2 separate regions of the Homo sapiens genome follow, and region 2 is linked to region 1. Evidence: fine-mapped expression QTL. A gene starts in region 1. The other region holds a variant in brackets. All regions are shown on one strand. Distances are from middle to middle.

Region 1 (9,431 bases):
CCCTAAAACGGAAGGAAATTCTTGCAACATAGATGAACATTGGCTAAGAGTGATAAGCCAGTAACAAAAAGACAAACGTTGCATCATTTCACTGACATAAAGTACTTAGAGCAGTCAAAATCACAGTCAGAAAGTATAATGGTGGTTGCCAGGGGCTAGAGAGAGGAGAGAAAGATGAGTTATTGTTTATGGGTACAGAGTTTCAGTTTTGCAAGATGAAGAGTTTTGAAGACAGATGATAGTGATGGTTGCATAGGAATGTGAACATACTTAATATCATTGAATTATACACCCCCCAAAAATGGTTCAAATAGTACAAAGAAAAAAAAAGTAGTCAAGGCTTTCTAAACCCAAGAGGTTCTTGTCTAATATGCATTTCTTTTATTATTATTATTTTTTTTTTTTAGACAGAGTCTCATTCTGTTGCCCAGGCTGGAGTGCAGTGGCAGGATCTCACTCACTGCAACCTCTGCCTCCTGGGTTCAAGCTATTCTCCTGCCTCAGCCTCCCGAGTAACTGGGATCACAGACATGTGCCATCACACCCGGCTAATTTTTTGTATTTTTAGTAGAGACAAAGTTTCATCATGTAGGCCAGGCTGGTCTTGAACTCCTGATCTCAGAAGATCTAGGGCTCCTGAAGTGCTGGGATTATAGGCATGAGCCACTGCGCCTGACCTCTAATATGCATTTCTATCAGGGGCTTTAGAAATAGATACTTGAAGGCCAGGCAAGGTGGCTCACGCCTGTAATCCCAACACTTTGGGAGGCCAAAGGGGGCAGATCACCTGAGGTCAGGAGTTCGAGACCAGCCTGGTCAACATGGTGAAACCCCGTCTCTACTAAAAAGGTAAAAAAATTAGCTGGGTGTGGTGGCAGGCGCCTATAATCCCAGCTACTCAGGAGGTTGAGGCAGGAGAATCGCTTGAACCCAGGAGGCGGAGGTTACAGAGAGCCGAGATAGCACCATTGCACTCCAGCCTGGACAACAAAAGTGAAACTCCATCTCGAAAAAAAAAAAAAGATATTTGAAAGCCTGTATTGAGATACTCTAGAATCACAACAGCTGAAGCAGTATGAATGATTTAAAATGTAAATGCCAGGTCCGGTGCAGTGGCTCATGCCAGTAACAGCACTTTGGGAGGCTGAGGCGGGCAGATAGCTTGTTGGGGACCAGCCTGGGCAACATGGTGAAACCACATTTCTACAAAACCATACAAAAATTAGCTGGGCATGGTGGGGCACGCCTGTAGTCCCAGCTGCGCAAGAGGCTGAGTCACGAGAATCTCTTGAACCCGGGAGGCGGAGGGTGTGGTGAGCTGAGATTGTACCATTGCACTCCAGCCTGGGCAACAAGAGCAAAACTCCGTCTCAAAAATGAATAAAATAAAATAAAATAAAAAGAGAGAACTTTACACAACTTTTTTTCCCCCTGAGACAGAGTCATTTGCCCTGTCGCCCAGGATGGAGTGCAGTGGTCTGATCTCAGCTCATTACCACCTCCGCTTTCCCGATTCAAGCAATTCTCCCGTCTCAGCCTCCCCAGTAGCTGGGTTTACAAGCATGGCCCACCACACCTGGCTAATTTTTGTATTTTTAGTAGAGATGGGTTTTCACCATGCTGGACAGGCTGGTCTTGAACTCCTGACCTCAAGTGATCCACCCACCTTCGCCTTCCAAAGTGCCGGGATTATAGGCGTGAGTCACCGCACCAGGCAGAAACTTTACACAACATTTTAAAGATTTTCTGTGCTTTTTAAAAAATGTCAAATAGAAGTATTTACTCCAATTGCAGTCAATCTTTGTTTCATTCCATCTTGTAAAAGTTGAATATTTTCTCTTTCTTATTTTTTTCTTTTTTCAAAGTATTTTTCATTTGTTATTAATTTTTTTCTTTTTAAAAATTATTATTTTATTTCTTATTGATTTTTAAAAAACCCTATTTAAATTTACATTGAAAAAGTTGGCCGGGCGCTGAGGCTCATGCCCGTAATCCCAACAGTTTGGGAGGCCGAGGCAGGTGGATCACGAGATAAGGAGTCCCAGACCAGCCTGGCCAATATGGTGAAACTCCTTTCTACTAAAAATACAAAAATTAGCCGGGCATGGCGGCGCACACCTGTAGTCCCAGCTACTTCGGAGGCTGAGGCAGGAGAATCGCTTGAATCCGGGAGGCAGAGGTTACAGTGAGCCGAGATCGTGCCACTGCACTCCAGCCTAGGGGACAGAATGAGACTCCATCTCAGGAAAAAAAAAAAAAAAAAGGGAAAAGTTTCTGGCCAGGCGCCGTGGCTCACGCCTGTAATCGCAGCACTTTGGGAGGCCGAGGCGGGTGGATCACTTGAGGTCAGCAGTTTGAGAGCAGCCTGGCCAACATAGCGAAACCCCGTCTCTACTAAAAATACGAAAAATTAGCCGGGCGTGGTGGCGGGCGTCTGTAATCCCAGCTACCCGGGAGGCTGAGGTAGGAGAATTGCTTGAACCCAGGAGGCAGAGGTTGCAGTGAGCCAAGATCGCACCATTGCACTTCGGCCTGGGTGACAAGAGCGAAATTCTGTCTCAAAAAAAAAAAAAAAAAAAAAGAAAGAAAGAAAGAAAAGAAAAAGAAAAAAAAGAAAAGAAAAAGTTTCTGTGGCAGGGCACAGTGGCTCATGCCTACAATCCCAACACTTTGGGAGGTTGAGGAGGGAGAATCGCTTGAGTCTAGGAGTTCGAGACCAGCCTGGGCAACATAGTGAGACCTCCCCATGTATACAAAAAAATTAAAAAGAAAAGAAAAAGCTGGGCATGGTGTCCGCACCTGTAGTAACAGCTACTCAGGATGCTGAGGTGGGAGGATCGCTTGAGCCCTGGTGGCTGAGGTTGCAGTGAGCCGAGATTGCGCCCCCCTAACTCAAACCAAAATTAAATTTAAAAAAACTTTCACTTGAAAGAGAAAAGTTTCTCTGTCAATGTTTTTGTTTTGTTTTGTTTTGTTTTGTGATGGACTCTTTTTCTGTTGCCCAGGCTGGAGTGCAGTGGCGCGATCTCGGCTCACTGCAACCTCTGCCTCCCGGGTTCAAGCAGTTCTCTGTCTCGGCCTCCCGAGTAGATGGGACTACAGGCGCCACCAAGCCCGGCTAATTTTTTGTATTTTTAGTAGAGACGGGGTTTCACCATGTTGGCCAGGAAGGTCTCGATGTCTTGGCCTCGTGATCCGCCCGCCTCGGCCTCCCAAACTGCTGAGATTACAGGCGTGAGCCACCACGCCTGGCCTCTTTTTCTTTTTTGAGACAGAGTCTCGCTCTGTCGCCCAGGCTGGAGTGAAGTGGCACGTCTCAGCTCACTGCAACCTCCGCCTCCCGGGTTCAAGTGATTCTCCAGCCTCAGCCTCCCGAGTAGCTGGGATTACAGGTGCCCGCCACCACGCCTAGCTAATATTTGTATTTTTTAGTAGAGACGGGGTTTCTTTCGCCTTGTTGGCCAGGCTGGTCTTGAACTCCTGACCTCAGGTGATCCGCCCACCTCGGTCTCCCAGATTGCTGGGATTACAGGCGTGAGTCAGTGTGCCCAGGCAACACACACACACACATATATTTAATTATAAGAAAGACCAGGTCTTGCTGGGTTGCCCAGGCTGGTCTCAAACTCCTGAGCTCAAGCGACCCGCCTGCCTCGGCCTCTCGGATGCTGAGGTTACAGGCGTGAGCCACCGCGCCCGGCCCTACCTCATCTTCTTAAGACAGGGGCACGGATTGCCTGGAGAGTTAGAAACTTCGAGACTTTTGTAGCCTCAGGAAAGGCCGCGGCCAGCCTCTTCGCGGCATGGGCGTGGCTCCCAGCGACTTCCCAGCCTGGGGTTCCCCTTCGGGTCGCAGACTCTTGTGTGCCCGCCAGTAGTGCTTGGTTTCCAACAGCTGCTGCTGGCTCTTCCTCTTGCGGCCTTTTCCTGAAACGGATTCTTCTTTCGGGGAACAGAAAGCGCCAGCCATGCAGCCTTGGCACGGAAAGGCCATGCAGAGAGCTTCCGAGGCCGGAGCCACTGCCCCCAAGGCTTCCGCACGGAATGCCAGGGGCGCCCCGATGGATCCCACCGAGTCTCCGGCTGCCCCCGAGGCCGCCCTGCCTAAGGCGGGAAAGTTCGGCCCCGCCAGGAAGTCGGGATCCCGGCAGAAAAAGAGCGCCCCGGACACCCAGGAGAGGCCGCCCGTCCGCGCAACTGGGGCCCGCGCCAAAAAGGCCCCTCAGCGCGCCCAGGACACGCAGCCGTCTGACGCCACCAGCGCCCCTGGGGCAGAGGGGCTGGAGCCTCCTGCGGCTCGGGAGCCGGCTCTTTCCAGGGCTGGTTCTTGCCGCCAGAGGGGCGCGCGCTGCTCCACGAAGCCAAGACCTCCGCCCGGGCCCTGGGACGTGCCCAGCCCCGGCCTGCCGGTCTCGGCCCCCATTCTCGTACGGAGGGATGCGGCGCCTGGGGCCTCGAAGCTCCGGGCGGTTTTGGAGAAGTTGAAGCTCAGCCGCGATGATATCTCCACGGCGGCGGGGATGGTGAAAGGGGTTGTGGACCACCTGCTGCTCAGACTGAAGTGCGACTCCGCGTTCAGAGGCGTCGGGCTGCTGAACACCGGGAGCTACTATGAGCACGTGAAGGTGAGCTGCTTGGCGCCCTCCCGCCGAGCCCCGCTGCTCGGCCTTCCGCAATCCGCAGTCCCTACCTTCCCCGGGTCGCGCCCCTCACTTCCCTTCGGAAGTAACTTAGACTTTTGCATGTTTTTCGGTAGCCTAGTCTAAGTAAAACGACAAACCGTTCGTTTATTCATCTACACATCCAACGATCAGACAACCAACCGGTACTGATTGCTGGCTAATTTCAAGACACTGCTCCCGGGGGAATTCAAATGTATGGGTTCATTCATGCAAGCCGACATGTATCGAGTTTCCGTAACAGGGCAGTGTTTGATGGTGTGGACCTGAGGTCCCGAGTCAGATATTGACTTGGATAATTTGAAGTGGTCTGTTAAAAATTCCACGTAGACTTTTTCCTATGAGGAAGACCTCTTACTCCATAGAAAAAAAGATCTTCAGTTTCTCTCCCCCTCTTCCTCCCTGCCCCCTCTCCTGCTATCCCGTCTGACCCCAATTTCTTTTTTTTCTTTTTTCTTTTCTTTTCTTTTTTTTTTTTTTTGAGGCGGAGTCTCGCTGCGTCCCCCAGGCTGGAGTGCAGTGGCGCTATCTCGGCTCACTGCAAGCTCCGCCTCCCGGGTTCACGCCATTCTCCTGCCTCAGCTTCCCGAGTAGCTGGGACTACAGGCGCCCGCCACCATGCCCGGCTAATTTTTTTTGTATTTTTAGTAGAGACGGTGTTTCACCGTGTTAGCCAGGATGGTCTCGATCTCCTGACCTCTTGATTCGCTCGTCTCGGCCTCTCAAAGTGCTGGGATTACAGGCGTGAGCTACCGCGCCCGGCCGTCTGTCCCCAGTTTCTTACACAGAAATCATGGGAAGCTTACAGTATAATGTTAAACAAACAAATAAGAATATCTCCTACAGATACTAAAACGCTTTCTAGATACACATTCCGTATAATTGCTTCGACGTGTGTATTACACAGCTCCATTTGCTTGTGGGTGATTGAGTCATTAATCATTCCTGTGTAAATTGAAAGTTTAGAAGCAGGTTCCTGACTGGAGCGTGTTTCTTGCCCAGCAAGAGATTTGTTTCTTTTTCTTTTTCTTTCTTTCTTTCTTTTTTTTTTTTTTGAGACGGAGTTTCGCTCTTGTTACCCAGGCTGGAGTGCAATGGCGCGATCTCAGCTCACCTCAACCTCCACCTCCCAGGTTCAAGCGATTCTCCTGTCTCAGCCTCCTGAGTAGATGGGATTACAAGCATGAGCCTCCACCCTGGCTAATTTTGTATTTTTAGTAGAGACGGGCTTTCTCCATGTTGGTCAGGCTGGTCTAGAACTCCCGACCTCAGGTGATCTGCCAGCCTCAGCCTCCCAAAGTGCTGGGATTACAGGCGTGAGCCACCACACCCGGCTTCTTTTCTCTTCTTTTTTCTCTTCTCTTCTCTTCTCTCTATCTCTCTGTCTCTCTCTTTTCCTCCCTCCCTCTCTTCCTCTCTCTCTCTCTCTCTTTATTTTGTTCTTTCTTTCTTTTCTTTCTTCTTTCTTCTTTTTTTGATGGAGTTTCACTCTTGTTGCCCAGGCTGTAGTGCAGTGGTGCCATCTAGGTTTCGCTGCAACCTCCGGCTTCCAGGTTCAAGCGATTCTCCTGCTTCAGCCTTCCAAATAGCAGGGATTACAGGTGCCTGCCCCCACTCCCGGCTAATTTATGTATTTTTAGTAGAGACGGGGTTTCACCATGTTGGCCAGGCTGGTCTCGAACTCTGACCTCAGATGATCCACCTGCCTCGGCCTCCCTAAGTGCTGGGATTACAGGCTTGAGCCACGGCACCCAGCCCAGACTGTGTCTTGAGCATGATTCTTTTTAATTAACTAATTTACTTTTCAGCATCAGATATGTCTCTGATTGAGCATGATTCTTATTATGTAAGTATCAATTCAGTTCAATTACTGTATATGGCGGGTCCAAAGGAAAAAGAAAGTTACTAGTTAGAATTAGAGAACAAGACATTCAGAAGACAGTCTCCATTCAGAACCACTTTGTGTGTGTGTGTGTGTGTGTGTGTGTGTGTGTTTGAGACAGAGTCTCACTCTGTCACCCAGGCTGGAGTGCAGTGGCGCGATCTCGGCTCACTGCAAGCCCTGCCTACTGGGTTCACACCATTCTCCTGCCTCAGCCTCCCAAGTAGCTGGGACTACAGGCGCCCGCCACCATGCCCAGCTAATTTTTGTATTTTTAGTAGAGACGGGGTTTCACCGTGTTAGCCAGGCTGGTCTCTATCTCCTGACCTCATGATCTTCCCGCCTTGGCCTCCCAAAGTGCTGGGATTACAGGTGGGAGCCACCATGCCCAGCCCAGAACCACTTTGTTTTTAAAAATTATGCCAATGAAAAGAAATCCAGTGAAATTTGTTTTATCTAAAACTTTTTCTTTTTTTCTTTTTCTTTTTTCTTTTTTTTTGGGGATGGAGTCTTGCTCTGTCACCCAGGGTGGAGTGCAGTGATGTGATCTTGGCTCACTGTAACCTCCGCCTCCCGGGTTCAAGTGAGTCTCCTGCCTCAGCCTCCAGAGTAACTGGGATTACAGGCGGGCGTCACCTCACCTGGCTAATTTTGTATTTTTAGTAGAGATAAGGTTTCAGCATGTTGGCCAGGCTGGTCTCGAACTCCTGACCTCAAGTGATCCACCTGCATCAGCCTTTCAAAGTGCTGGGATTACAGGCGTGAGCCACTACACCCAGCCTAAAACTTTTTCTATTACTGATTATGAGATATATGTGGGCCAGGTACAGTGGACTCATGCCTGTGATCCTAGCACCATGGGAGGCTGAGGCGGGAGTTTGAGTCCAGCCTGGACAACATAGTGAGACCCCAGCTCTACCAAAAATAAGTTAAAAATTAACTGGATGTGGTGGCACACACAGGTAGTCCCAGCTACCTGGGACTACAAATTCTAGGTAAAAAAAAATCTCGAAAATACATGGGAAGTTTCTTGTAGAAATTCCCTGTAGAATTGTCAGTCCATATGTTCTTTTCATTCTAAGTGTTAATGTACTTTACTATTTATATAGTTTGGACTCAGTGAAAAGGTTACATAGAAATCAATTAATTGTAGTTTTTTTTGTTTGTTTGTTTTTTGTTTTGTTTTGTTTTGAGACAGAGTTTCACTCTTGTTGCCTGGGCTGGAGTACAATGGCGTGGGTGGCCTCAGCTCACTGCAACCTCTGCCTCCCAGGTTCAAGCGATTCTCCTGCCTCAGCCTCCCGAGTAGCTGGGATTACAGGAATGCACCACCATGCCTGGCTAATTTTTTGTGTTTTTAGTAGAGATGGGGTTTCTCCATGTTGGTAAGGCTGGTCTCAAACTCCTGACCTCAGGTGATCCACCCGTCTCAGCCTCCCAAAGTACTGGGATTACAGGCGTGAGCCACTGTGCCCGGCCAGTGGTTTTAAGTAATGGTATATTAACTGGTAAAGAAAAGGAACAAACTACAGCAACATGAACAGTGAAAATGAATTACATAAATAATGTTGAACAACAACAAAAAGAACGTAAAGGAATACATACAGCTGATGCAGCAAGACAAGGAAAATAAAGGCATAAGATGGGAAAAAGAGTGATGAAATCGTTATGTGTAGATGACTTGATTGGCTTCACATATAAACTGTTGGAAATAATTAGTAAATTAGCAAAATTGCTGGTTGCAAAGTCAATAAACAAAAATAAAAATATTTCAATATACTAACAAGATTAAAAACAAAATGAAAATACCATTTAGAATATCATCAAAAATATCAAACCTAGGTCCATTGGTGCATTCTGATAGTCCCAGCTATTTGGGAGGCCGAGGTGGGAGAATCACATCAAGTCAGGAGTTTGAGGCTGCAGTACACTATGATCTATCTGTGAGTAGCCACTGTACTCCAGCCTAGAGACCCCATCTCTAAAAAATAAAAATTGAAAACTTTGGCCAGGCATGGTGGCTCACGCCTATAATCCCAGCACTTTGGGAGTAGAGGCAGGCAGATCACTTGAGGTCAGGAGTTTGAGACCAGCCTGGTCAACATGGCAAAACCCTGTCTCTACTAAAACTACAAAAATTAGCTGGGCGTGTTGGTGCGCGCCTGTATTCCCAGCTACTTGGGAGGCTGAGGCAGGAGAATTGCTTGAGCCCAGGAAGCTGAGGTTGCAGTGAGCCAAGCTTGCTCCATTGCACTCCAGCCTCAGTGACAAGCGTGAAACTCTGTCTCAAAAAAAAACAAAAAACTGAAAACTTGAAAAACAATTTAAAAATCAAATATTTAGGAATAAATATCACTAAAGATATTCAAAACTTAAAAACATAACTGGGTAAATTTGAAGAGGAAGTAATTGACAACTATATCGTGTTCATTTTTCCTCAAATTGTTCTAGATTTAATGCAATCAGTTGAAATATGATCAGTTTTTTAAATTAAATTGACAAACTGATTAAAATATGTATTCATTTATTTTTTGAGACGGAGTCTCGCACTGTCGCCCAGGCTGGAGTGCAGTGGTACCATCTCGGCTCACTGCAACCTCCGCCTCCCGGGTTCAAGCAAGTCTCCTGCCTCAGCCTCCTGAGTAGCTGGAACTACAGGTGCATGCCACCACACCTAGCTAATTTTCATATTTTTAATAGAGACGAAGTTCCACCATGTTGGCCAGGATGGCCTTGATCTCTTGACCTTGTGATTCGCCTGCCTCGTCCTCCCAAAGTACTGGGATTACAAGCGTGAGCCACCGCGCCTGGCTGAAAGGACGATTTTTTTTTTTTTTTTTTTTTTTTTTTTTTTGAGACGGAGTCTCGCT
Region 2 (9,734 bases), 28 kb after region 1:
TGGGTCTGGGGGGCAGGGCAGGATTGGGTTGAGCTGGGGAGAGTGTGAGTATGAAACCAGAGAAGCTAGATCCAAAGGGCCAAGGAAAGGGTGTTGTTAGAAGGCAAGGCCGGGGAATAGTAGTTCTGAACCCTGGATCAGATGAATGTGTTTTTGTATAGATGTATCAGTAGGACAGAGTGAGAGGGTATGAGCACTAGCCATGACAATTCGATGGGTCTTAGTATTCTGCTTGTTTAAAAGTAATGGATATTAATGCCATATAATTGGAGGAGGCCAAAAGGTCGCTCTTATTAGATACTGGGCTTGCTTTGGGATAGTTGGGTTGTGTTGACGGCTAGGGATTGATTGGCCAAACTGAAAACAACACTAAGTGAGTAATTTTTTTTTTTGAGACAGACTTTCACTCTGTCACCCAGACTGGAGTGCAGTGGCACAATTACGGCTCACCACAGCCTCGATCTCCTGGGCTCAAGCAATCATCCTACCTCAGCCCCCCAAGTAGCTGAGATTACAGGTGCATGCCACCATGCTCGGCTAATTTAAAAAAAAATTTTGTAGAGGGCCTGTTGGCTCACACCTGTAATCCCAGCCTAGCAACATGGTGAGACCCCACCTCCATAAAAAATTTAAAAATTAGCCAGGCATGGTGACTGGTGCCTGTGGTCCCAGCTACTTGGAAGGCTGAGGTAGGAGAATGGCTCGAGCCCAGAAAATCAAGGCTGCAGTGAGCCATGATCGTGCCACTGCACTGCAACCTGGGTGACATAGTGACACCCTGTCTCAAAAAAAATTTTTTTTATTGGTAGAGATGGTGGTCTCCCTTTGTTGCCCAGGCAGGCTGGTCACCAACTCCTGGGTTCAAGTAAACTTCCCGCCTTGGCCTCCCAAAGTCTTGGAAGTACGGGGATGAGACACTGCACCCCACCATTTTTTTTTGTGATGGCATACACACCATAAAGAACTAAGATTGAAAAGGAATTGTTCATTTGAGTTTCTAAAGTTGGCCAGTATTGGCCAGGCATGGTGGCTCAAGGCCTGCAATCCCAGCACTTTGGGAGGCCAGGGCAGGTGGATCACCTGAGGTCAGGAATTCGAGACCAGCCTGGCCTACGTGGCGAAACCCCGTCTCTACTAAAAATACAAAAATTAGCTGGGCGCAGTGGCACGTGCCTGTAATCCCCGCTACTCAGGAGGCTGAGGCAAGAGAATCACCTGAACCCGGGAGACAGAGGTTGCAATAAGCTGAGATCATGCCACTGCACTCCAGCCTGGGCAACAGAGCAAGACTCCATCTTAAATAAATAAATAAATAAATAAATAAATAAATAAATAAAGTAAGTTGGCCAGTATAAAGATCACAAAAGTTAAAAAGTCAAAACAAAAATGCCCAACATGCAGGCACAGAGGTTCTTTAAGATCTCATATGCAGGCTTTGAAGTAAGCATTAAGAAAACTATATTGTTGGCCAGGCACAGTGGCTCACGCCTGTAATCCCAGCACTTTGGGAGGCCGAGGCAGGTAGATCACCTGAGGTCAGGAGTTCGAGACCAGCCTGGCCAACGTTATGAAACCCCGTCTCTACAAAAATGCAAAAATTAGCCGGGCGAGGTGGCATGCACCTGTAATCCCAGCTACTTAGGAGGTTGAGGCAGGAGAATCGCTTGAACCCAGTAGGCAGAGGTTGCGGTGAGCTGAGATCACACCACTGCACTCCAGCCTGGGCAACAGAGCGAGACTCCATCTCAAAAAAAAAGGAAAAAGAAAAAAAAAAAGAAATATTGTTGATAAGGCTAAATAGTTTCATAAATAGTACATTTTGTCAACTACTAAATAACTAGATGAGATGGCAGATTATCTATGGTACTCTTAATAATGTAAATAATTCTGTGATACAATCAGTGGATTTTAGAAAAGAAAAAATTTATATTAAATTTGCAGTTCAATAAAGTAAAATAATTTTATAACAAAACAAGATTTTGGATCGCTTGAGGGGGGTGAGGGGAGGGTCAGAGGTTGCAGTGAGCCGAGATTGTATCACTGCATCCCAGCCTGGGTGACAGAGTGAGACCCTGTCTCAAAAAAAAAAAAAATAGTATAAATATCTGTTAGCTTTATACAGTTGAAGAAATTCATAGAATATATTTAAGCTAAGAATGGGAAAGAGAGGGAAAAAATGTGTTTTTGAAACTTCAAACCATATATTTGAAAACATAATCAGATTTTAGTGTGACTGTTGTATTTATTTTATTTTATTTTATTTTATCATTTCATTTCATTTCATTTATTTCATTTTATTTTATTATTTTATTTTATTTTATTTTATTTTATTTTGAGATGGAGTCTCACTTGTTGCCCAGGCTGGAGTGCAGTGGCATGATCTTGGCTCACTGCAACCTCTGCCTCCTGGGTTCAAGTGATTCTCCTGCCTCAGCCTCCCGAGTAGCTGGGATTATAGGTGCACGCCACCACACCTGGCTAATTTTTGTATTTTTAGTAGAGATGGGGTTTCAGCATACTGGCCAGGCTGATCTCGAACTCTTGACCTCGTGATCCGCCTGCCTAGGCCTCCCAAAGTGCTGGGATTACAGGCATGAGCCACCGCGCCCGGCTTTTTTGTTTTTGTTTTTGTTTTCTGTGTGTGACAGAGTTTCGTTCTTGTTGCCCAGGCTGGAGTGCAATGACGCGATCTTGGCTCACTGCAACCTCCGCCTCCTGGCTTCAAGCGATTCTCGTGCCTCAGCCTGCAGAGTAGCTGGGATTACAGGCGTGCGCCACCACGCCCAGCTAATTTTGTATTTTTAGTAGAGACGGGGTTTCACCATATTAGTCAGGCTGGACTCAAACTCTTGATCTTAGGTGATCCCCCTGCCTCAGCCTCCCAAAGTGCTGGGATTACAGGCGTTGTGTCACCACGCCCGGCCTATATTTATGTTATTATATATCTTTATTGTTTATATTTTTGCTATGAGATGCCTAAAATCCTTTGTTGAATGTAAATAAGTAAAAATAAGTGTTTTCCTTTTTTATTCAACAGGAAAGATTGTTTAAAACTAATGAAATACCTTTTAGAACAGCTGAAAGAAAGGTTTAAAGACAAAAAACATCTGGATAAATTCTCTTCTTATCATGTGAAAACTGCCTTCTTTCACGTATGTACCCAGAACCCTCAAGACAGTCAGTGGGACCGCAAAGACCTGGGCCTCTGCTTTGATAACTGCGTGACATACTTTCTTCAGTGCCTCAGGACAGAAAAACTTGAGAATTATTTTATTCCTGAATTCAATCTATTCTCTAGCAACTTAATTGACAAAAGAAGTAAGGAATTTCTGACAAAGCAAATTGAATATGAAAGAAACAATGAGTTTCCAGTTTTTGATGAATTTTGAGATTGTATTTTTAGAAAGATCTAAGAACTAGAGTCACCCTAAATCCTGGAGAATACAAGAAAAATTTGAAAAGGGGCCAGACGCTGTGGCTCACACCTGTAATCCCAGCTCTTTGGAGGCCGAGGCAGGCGGATCACTTGAGGTCAGGAGTTTGAGACCAGCCTGACCAACATGGTGAAACTCCATCTCTACTAAAAATATAAAAATTAGCCGGGCATGGTGATGCATGCCTGTAATCCCAGCTACTCGGGAGGCTTAGACATGAGAATCACTTGAACCCAGGAGGTGGAGGTTGCAGTGAGTCAAGATGGCACCACTGCACTCCATCCTGGGTGACAGAGCAAGACTTCCTCTCAAAAAATAAATAAATAAATAAGAAAAATAAATTAGGAAATTATTAAAATAATTTTTTAGAAAAGCAACAAAATAACAAAAATTAGTGACTGTAATAATTGGAATGTTTGAAATTTGTCACAGCAATAATTGACTAAAATGAATGTAAATAATTATTCAGTTTTCAGTTTGTTGTAATAAACTCTAATCAGTATAAAGGATTGACTATCCTAGGAAAAAGATTAGTCAAGGAATAAGAAGCAAAAGTAGTATTTGAAATCTAAAAACATTACCATGTTTGCTTTATCATGCAGGCAAATAAATAAATAAATGACATTTTTAGGTTGGAATAAAAAAAGATAAAGTACATATTGCCTTAATTAAATTCATCAAGTTCTTACTGAAAAACAGCTCTCCGCCGTGCCTGGCCAGGAAATACATAATTTTTTTTTTTTTTTTTTAGATGGAGTCTCGCTCTGTCGCCCAGGCTGGAGTCCAGTGGCATGATCTTGGCTCACTGCAAGCTCTGCTTCCTGGGTTCATGCCATTCTCCTGCCTCAGCCTTCCGAGTAGCTGGGACTACAGGTGCCCGCCACCACATCCGGCTAATTTTTTGTATTTTTAGTAAAGATGGGGTTTCACCATGTTAGCCAGGATGGTCTCGATCTCCTTACCTTGTGATCCGCCCGCCTTGGCCTCCCAAAGTGCTGGGATTACAGGTGTGAGCCACCACGCCTGGCTGAAATACATAATCTTAAAAGAAAACATAAGATACTTTATTTTAATATACGTGACTAAATGTAAAACCTAACTTATTTTCTGTTATCTATTTATTTTTACTTTCAGTAACACTTTTTTTATTTTAGGTAGCATTCAGCCTAGAGGCAACTGCTGTTTGTTAAAT[A/T]TTTCCTGTTCATATATTTTGCACATTTTCTTATGGGTTAGTTTTCTTCTCATTGTTTTGGGAAGTTCTTAATATATTTGGGGTATTTATCTTTCATTCGTTGTCTGTGTAACAAATAACTTCTGCCATATGGGTTGTCTGCACATTTTTTGGTGTCTTTTAGTAAACAAGGTTTTTTTGTTTTGTATTGTTTTGTTTATTGTAAAGATTTTTAAATTTTAATGGAGTTGATTTCTTTTCTCATTCAAGCTTTTGAGAATAAATTGGAGTTGAATTTTTTATGGTTTTTGCTTTATACATCTTGTTTAACAGCCTACTATGTTTGAACATACTAAGAGAAACATTAGACATTTGAAGAGTTTTGGGGACAATTAATGATAAATAAACCACTATGCAAATAAAATAATCTAAGCAATTTTTTTTTTTTTTGGGACAGTCTCACTCTGTCGCCCAGGCTGGAGTGCAGTGGCACGATCTTGGCTCACTGCACCCTCCTCCTCCCGGTTCAAGCAATTCTCCTGCCTCAGCCTCCCAAGTAGCTGGGACTACAGTTGCACGCCACCATGCCTGGCTAATTATTTTTGTATTTTTAGTAGAGACAGAGTTTCACCATGTTGGTCAAGCTGGTCTCAAACTCCTGACCTCAGGTGATACACCCATCTCAGCCTCCCAAAGTGCTAAGATTACAGATGTGAGCACTGTGCCCAGCCAATCTAAGCAATTTTTAACTCCATAAGAAAAATGAATGCATGAAAGAAAAGTCTGATATAAGAATATTGCTCAGCTGTTTAAGTATTGACAAAGTCATAGTAATGTAACCATTGACTATTAATCTTATTGAAGTTATGGACTGTTGTCGACTTTAAAAAAATTAAAAACCAGGGGCGGTGGCTCACCCCTGTAATTCCAGCACTTTGGGAGGCCAAGGCGGGCAGATCATGAGGTCAGGAGTTCAAGACCAGCCTGGCCAACATGGTGAAACCTCATCTCTACTAAAAATACAAAAATTAGATGAGTATGGTGGTACGTGCCTGTAATCCCAGCTACTTGGGAGGCTGAGGCAGGAGAATCGCTTGAACCCAGGAGGCAGAGGTTGCAGTGAGCCAAGACAGTGCCGCTGCACTCCAGCCTGGTGACAGAGCGAGACTCCATCTCAAAAAAAAAAAAAAAATTAAAAAAAAACTTTTTTAATGTGAAAAGAAAGAAAGAAATTATGATTACCCACTCTGTGGTTAGGATAGGACAATAGGCTTAGTTCCTGTATGGTGACAGTGGTAGGGAGATTACATTAGTTTCCTGTGTAACAATTAACCACAACCTTAGAGGCTTAAAACAACACATATTTATTATCTCACATTTTCAGTGGGCCAAAATTCTGGGTGTGGCTCTGCTCAGAGTCTCTCAAGGCTATAATTAAGACGTCAGCCAGCGCTGTAGCCTCATCTGAGGCTTGACTGGAGAAGGAACCATTTTTGTTGGCAGAATTTAGTTCCTTTACATTTGTAGGACTGAGGGCTTCAGTTTCTTGCTGTCAGCCAGAGGTTGCCCTCAGTTCCTAGAAGCTGTCTTCAGTTCCTTACCATGTGAGCCTCCCAACATAGGCAGCCCACAACAGTAGCTCGATTCTTCAAAGCCAGCAAGGGAGGTACTCCAGCAAGAGGAGTGCTACAAACTTGTTTAACACAATTACATACACATAATTATGTACAGTCCGTTGCCTGTACTGTATTCTATTGATTGGAAGCAAGTCAAAGGTCCCTCTCATACCCAAGAGGAGAGGAATCACTCAAGGGTGTTCTTGTTGTCTCAGATGCCAGCGATACAGTTAGGGGGAAAACAGTTCCCATAAGACCACCCTCATTTCTGTCAACAATTGCAATTTCAAGGGATTCCTAAAACCACCCTGAGGTTTGATGAAAGACTCACAGAACTCACTAAAACCACTATGCTCATGGTTGCAGTTTATTATATAGTAAGCATGCAAGTTTAAATCAGCCAAAGGAAGAAGTGCGTAAGGCAGAGTTTAAGAGAGTAGCAAACACAGCACTTTCTGTTGTCTTTTGGTGGAGTCATGGACATGTTATTCTCTTGGCATCAATGTGTGCCAATACACGCAGAATATTGCCAGCCAGGGAAGCTCACCTGAGCCATGTCCAGAGTTCTTACTGCAGCTCATGGTTGGCTGGACATATGTCTAACCTCAGTCTCCAGCTCCTCTGGAAGGCAAACAGTATAAGCTGATACCATGACCCAAAGACCCCACCATAAATCACATTGTTATACTTTCTGGCACATTCCAAGAATTCAGCCATTACCTTTCAGAAGCCAAGGGCAAAGGTGAGACTTTTCTTTGGGTTAGGTTAAATTCCTTACTACATAGATATGAACCTCAGGAGGTGGGGGGCCACAGGACAACCCTGAGGGTCCGACTGTCACAGGTATGCAAAAACTGAATTAATCTTCCTTATAGTGGGAAGTCAGTAAATGTCAAATTTTTAAAACCAAGAAATTGCAGTATAAGCAAGTTATTAATGGCTAAAAGATGAAAAGGTTACATCTTGGGAGTGGAAAATGAAGGGTGGAAGGGTTCGGGACTACTTTTTTTTTTAAATAAAATGATTTTATTTAGTTAGTTTGTAAATGTGAATATAGTTGGCAAAAACCAAACCAAAACAGCATAAAACCAAAAAATGACAGTTATATGATTGATCATGCCCAAGTACAACAGCATTTATTAGTAGAATATAAAAAATAAATTTTATGGCTGGGTGCCATGGCTCATGCCTGTAATCCCAGCACTTTGGGAGGACGAGGCGGGCGGATCACCTGAGGTCAGGAGTTCAAGACCAGCCTGATCAACATGGAGAAACCCCGTCTCTACTAAAAATACAAAATTGGCCGGGTGTGGTGGCGCATGCCTGTAATCCCAGCTACTCAGGAAGGCTGAGGCAGAAGAATTGCTTGAACCTGGGAGGCAGAGGTTGCAGTGAGCCGAGATTGTGCCATTGCAGTCCAGCCTGGGCAACAAGAGCGAAATTCCATCTCTAAATAAATTAATTAAATTAAAAATAATAAAAAATTTTATTATTGTTGTTATTTATTTATTTATTTTTTTGAGACGGAGTCTTGCTCTGTCACCCAGGCTGGAGTGCAGTGGCGCGATCTTGGCTCACTGCAACCTCCGCCTCCCGAGTTCAAGCGATTCTCCTGCCTTAGCCTCCCAAGTAGCTGGGATTACAGGCACCCACCACCACGCCCACCTAATTTTTTGTATTTTTAGTAGAGACAGGGTTTCACTATGTTGGCCAGGCTGGTCTTGAATGCTTGACCTCATGATCCACCTGCTTTGGCCTTCCAAAGTGCTGAGATTAAGGCGTGAGCCACTGCGCCTGGCCTAAAAATTTTGTTATTTTTATGTGCTTTTTTTCCCCCAGCTTTGACTCTCTGGATGCTTTTGAAAGTTTGAGTTCCTAAGAAATTCCACAGCTAGAGGTTCCTACGATGTCACTGAGTGAGGTTAAGGTTCTGCTCTTATAGGGAGCATCTTATCCTTGGGGATTCTGGACAACTGGACCCCTAGGAACTTGAAAAACAGCTGCTTTCATTGGTATTCTTTTGACATGGGGAAAATATAGCCATTGTCCATTAAAACACAATCCAATTTGGGTACAAGTACTCTTCAGGTTTTCTAAGTTCTCCACAGGAATACCAAGACTAGGCTACCATCTTTTCTGACAACAGACTACTTTTTAAATAAGCTTTGTAAGTCCAAGATTTCTGGCAGAGAAATGTAAATAAAAAATAAAAACAAAAATAAATAAGTCTTGTAGAACCATTTGCTTCCATACATTACATGTATATTTGACTTTGATAAAAATGAAAACAATTTTTTTTTTTGAGACAGAATTTCCCTCTTGTTGCCCAGGCTGGAGTGCGATGACCTAATCTTGGCTCACTGCAAACTCCACCTCCCGGGTTCAAGCGATTCTCCTGCCTCAGCCTCCCGAGTAGCTGGGATTATAAGCGCCCGCCACCACATCTGGCTAATTTTGTATTTTTAGTAGAGACCGGGTTTCTCCGTGTTGGTCAGGCTGGGCTCGAACTCCTGACCTCTGGTGATGCGCCCGCCTCGTCCTCCCAAAGTGCTGGTATTACAGGCGTGAGCCACTGTGCACGGCCTGAACACATATTATTTTTAAATTTTTTCATTTTGCCGGGCGCGGTGGCCTGAACACATATTACTTTTAAATCTTTTTCATTTTGCCAGGCATGAGGGTGGATGCCTGTAATCCCAGCTACTTGGGAGGCTGAGGCAGGAGAGTCGCTTGAACCTGGGAGGCGGAGGTTGTGGGTGAACTGAGATTGTGCCATTGCACTCCAGCCTGGGCAACAAGAGTGAAACTCTGTCTCAAAAAAAAAGTAATATGTGTTCAATGTGAAAAAGTCAGATGTTCACGTTAAAGTGTAAAAAAAAACAAACAGTGAAAATACAGAGAAATAGCATTATTAATCTAACATTTTATTACTGGGTAGTGCCACGCAATTCCAGGCTCCTGGTGTCTTGTTTTGTTTGTTCATTTTTGAGACGGAGTCTCACTCTGTCACCTAGGCTGGAGTGCAGTGGCCCGATCACAGCTCACTGCAACCTCTGCCTCCTGGCATCCAGTGGTTCTCCTGCCTCAGCCTCCTGATTGGGACTGCAGGCCTGCGCCACCATGCCTGGCTAATTTTCATATTTTTAGTAGAGACGGGGTTTCACCACGTTGGGCAGGCTGGTCTCGAACTCCTGACCTCCAGTGTTCTGCCTGCCTCGGTCTCCCAAAGTGCTGGGATTACAGACGTGAGCCACCGTGCCTGGCCTGGCACTTGGTGTCTTGAACAAAGACTTGGATGAGACACACACAGATAGTAAATAAAGCAAAGCAGCAAAAGCTTATTAAGCACTCTCACAAAGGGGAGAGCTGACTGACTTCTGTGAGATGAGATCAGCCTGGTTTGTTACATTTCATGGCCTTTTCTTTTCCTCACTTGCTTACCCTCACTTTATTTCTTGTAAGCTAATTGCTCATCCTTGCTTAACCTTACTTTTTTTTTTTTTTTGAGACAGG

Which allele goes with the higher level. Alleles are on the strand shown, and positions count from the first base shown. SD is a standard deviation of normalised expression in the study named.
With allele T in place of A in region 2, the expression in monocytes of the gene that starts at base 3,853 in region 1 is higher (moderate effect, 0.51 SD a copy in CEDAR).

The links.
Region 2: its variant is fine-mapped to the expression of CGAS in monocytes (CEDAR, PIP 0.95). The same link has a PIP of 0.9 or more in B cells.

The regions. Positions count from the first base shown.
Region 1 is chr6:73,446,719-73,456,149 of GRCh38, reverse strand. CGAS (cyclic GMP-AMP synthase) reads left to right here and starts at 3,853. Exons shown (of 5, transcript NM_138441.3): 1 at 3,853-4,625. The coding sequence starts at 3,969. RefSeq lists an enhancer at 3,572-4,051 and a silencer at 4,222-4,431.
Region 2 is chr6:73,418,882-73,428,615 of GRCh38, reverse strand. It overlaps CGAS (cyclic GMP-AMP synthase), which reads left to right. Exons shown (of 5, transcript NM_138441.3): 5 at 3,038-4,905. The coding sequence ends at 3,389. Among named protein-coding and RNA genes, the nearest start is that of CGAS, 29 kb to the left of the region's middle. RefSeq lists a silencer at 6,736-7,030. The variant A/T (reference allele first, on the strand shown) is at 4,627.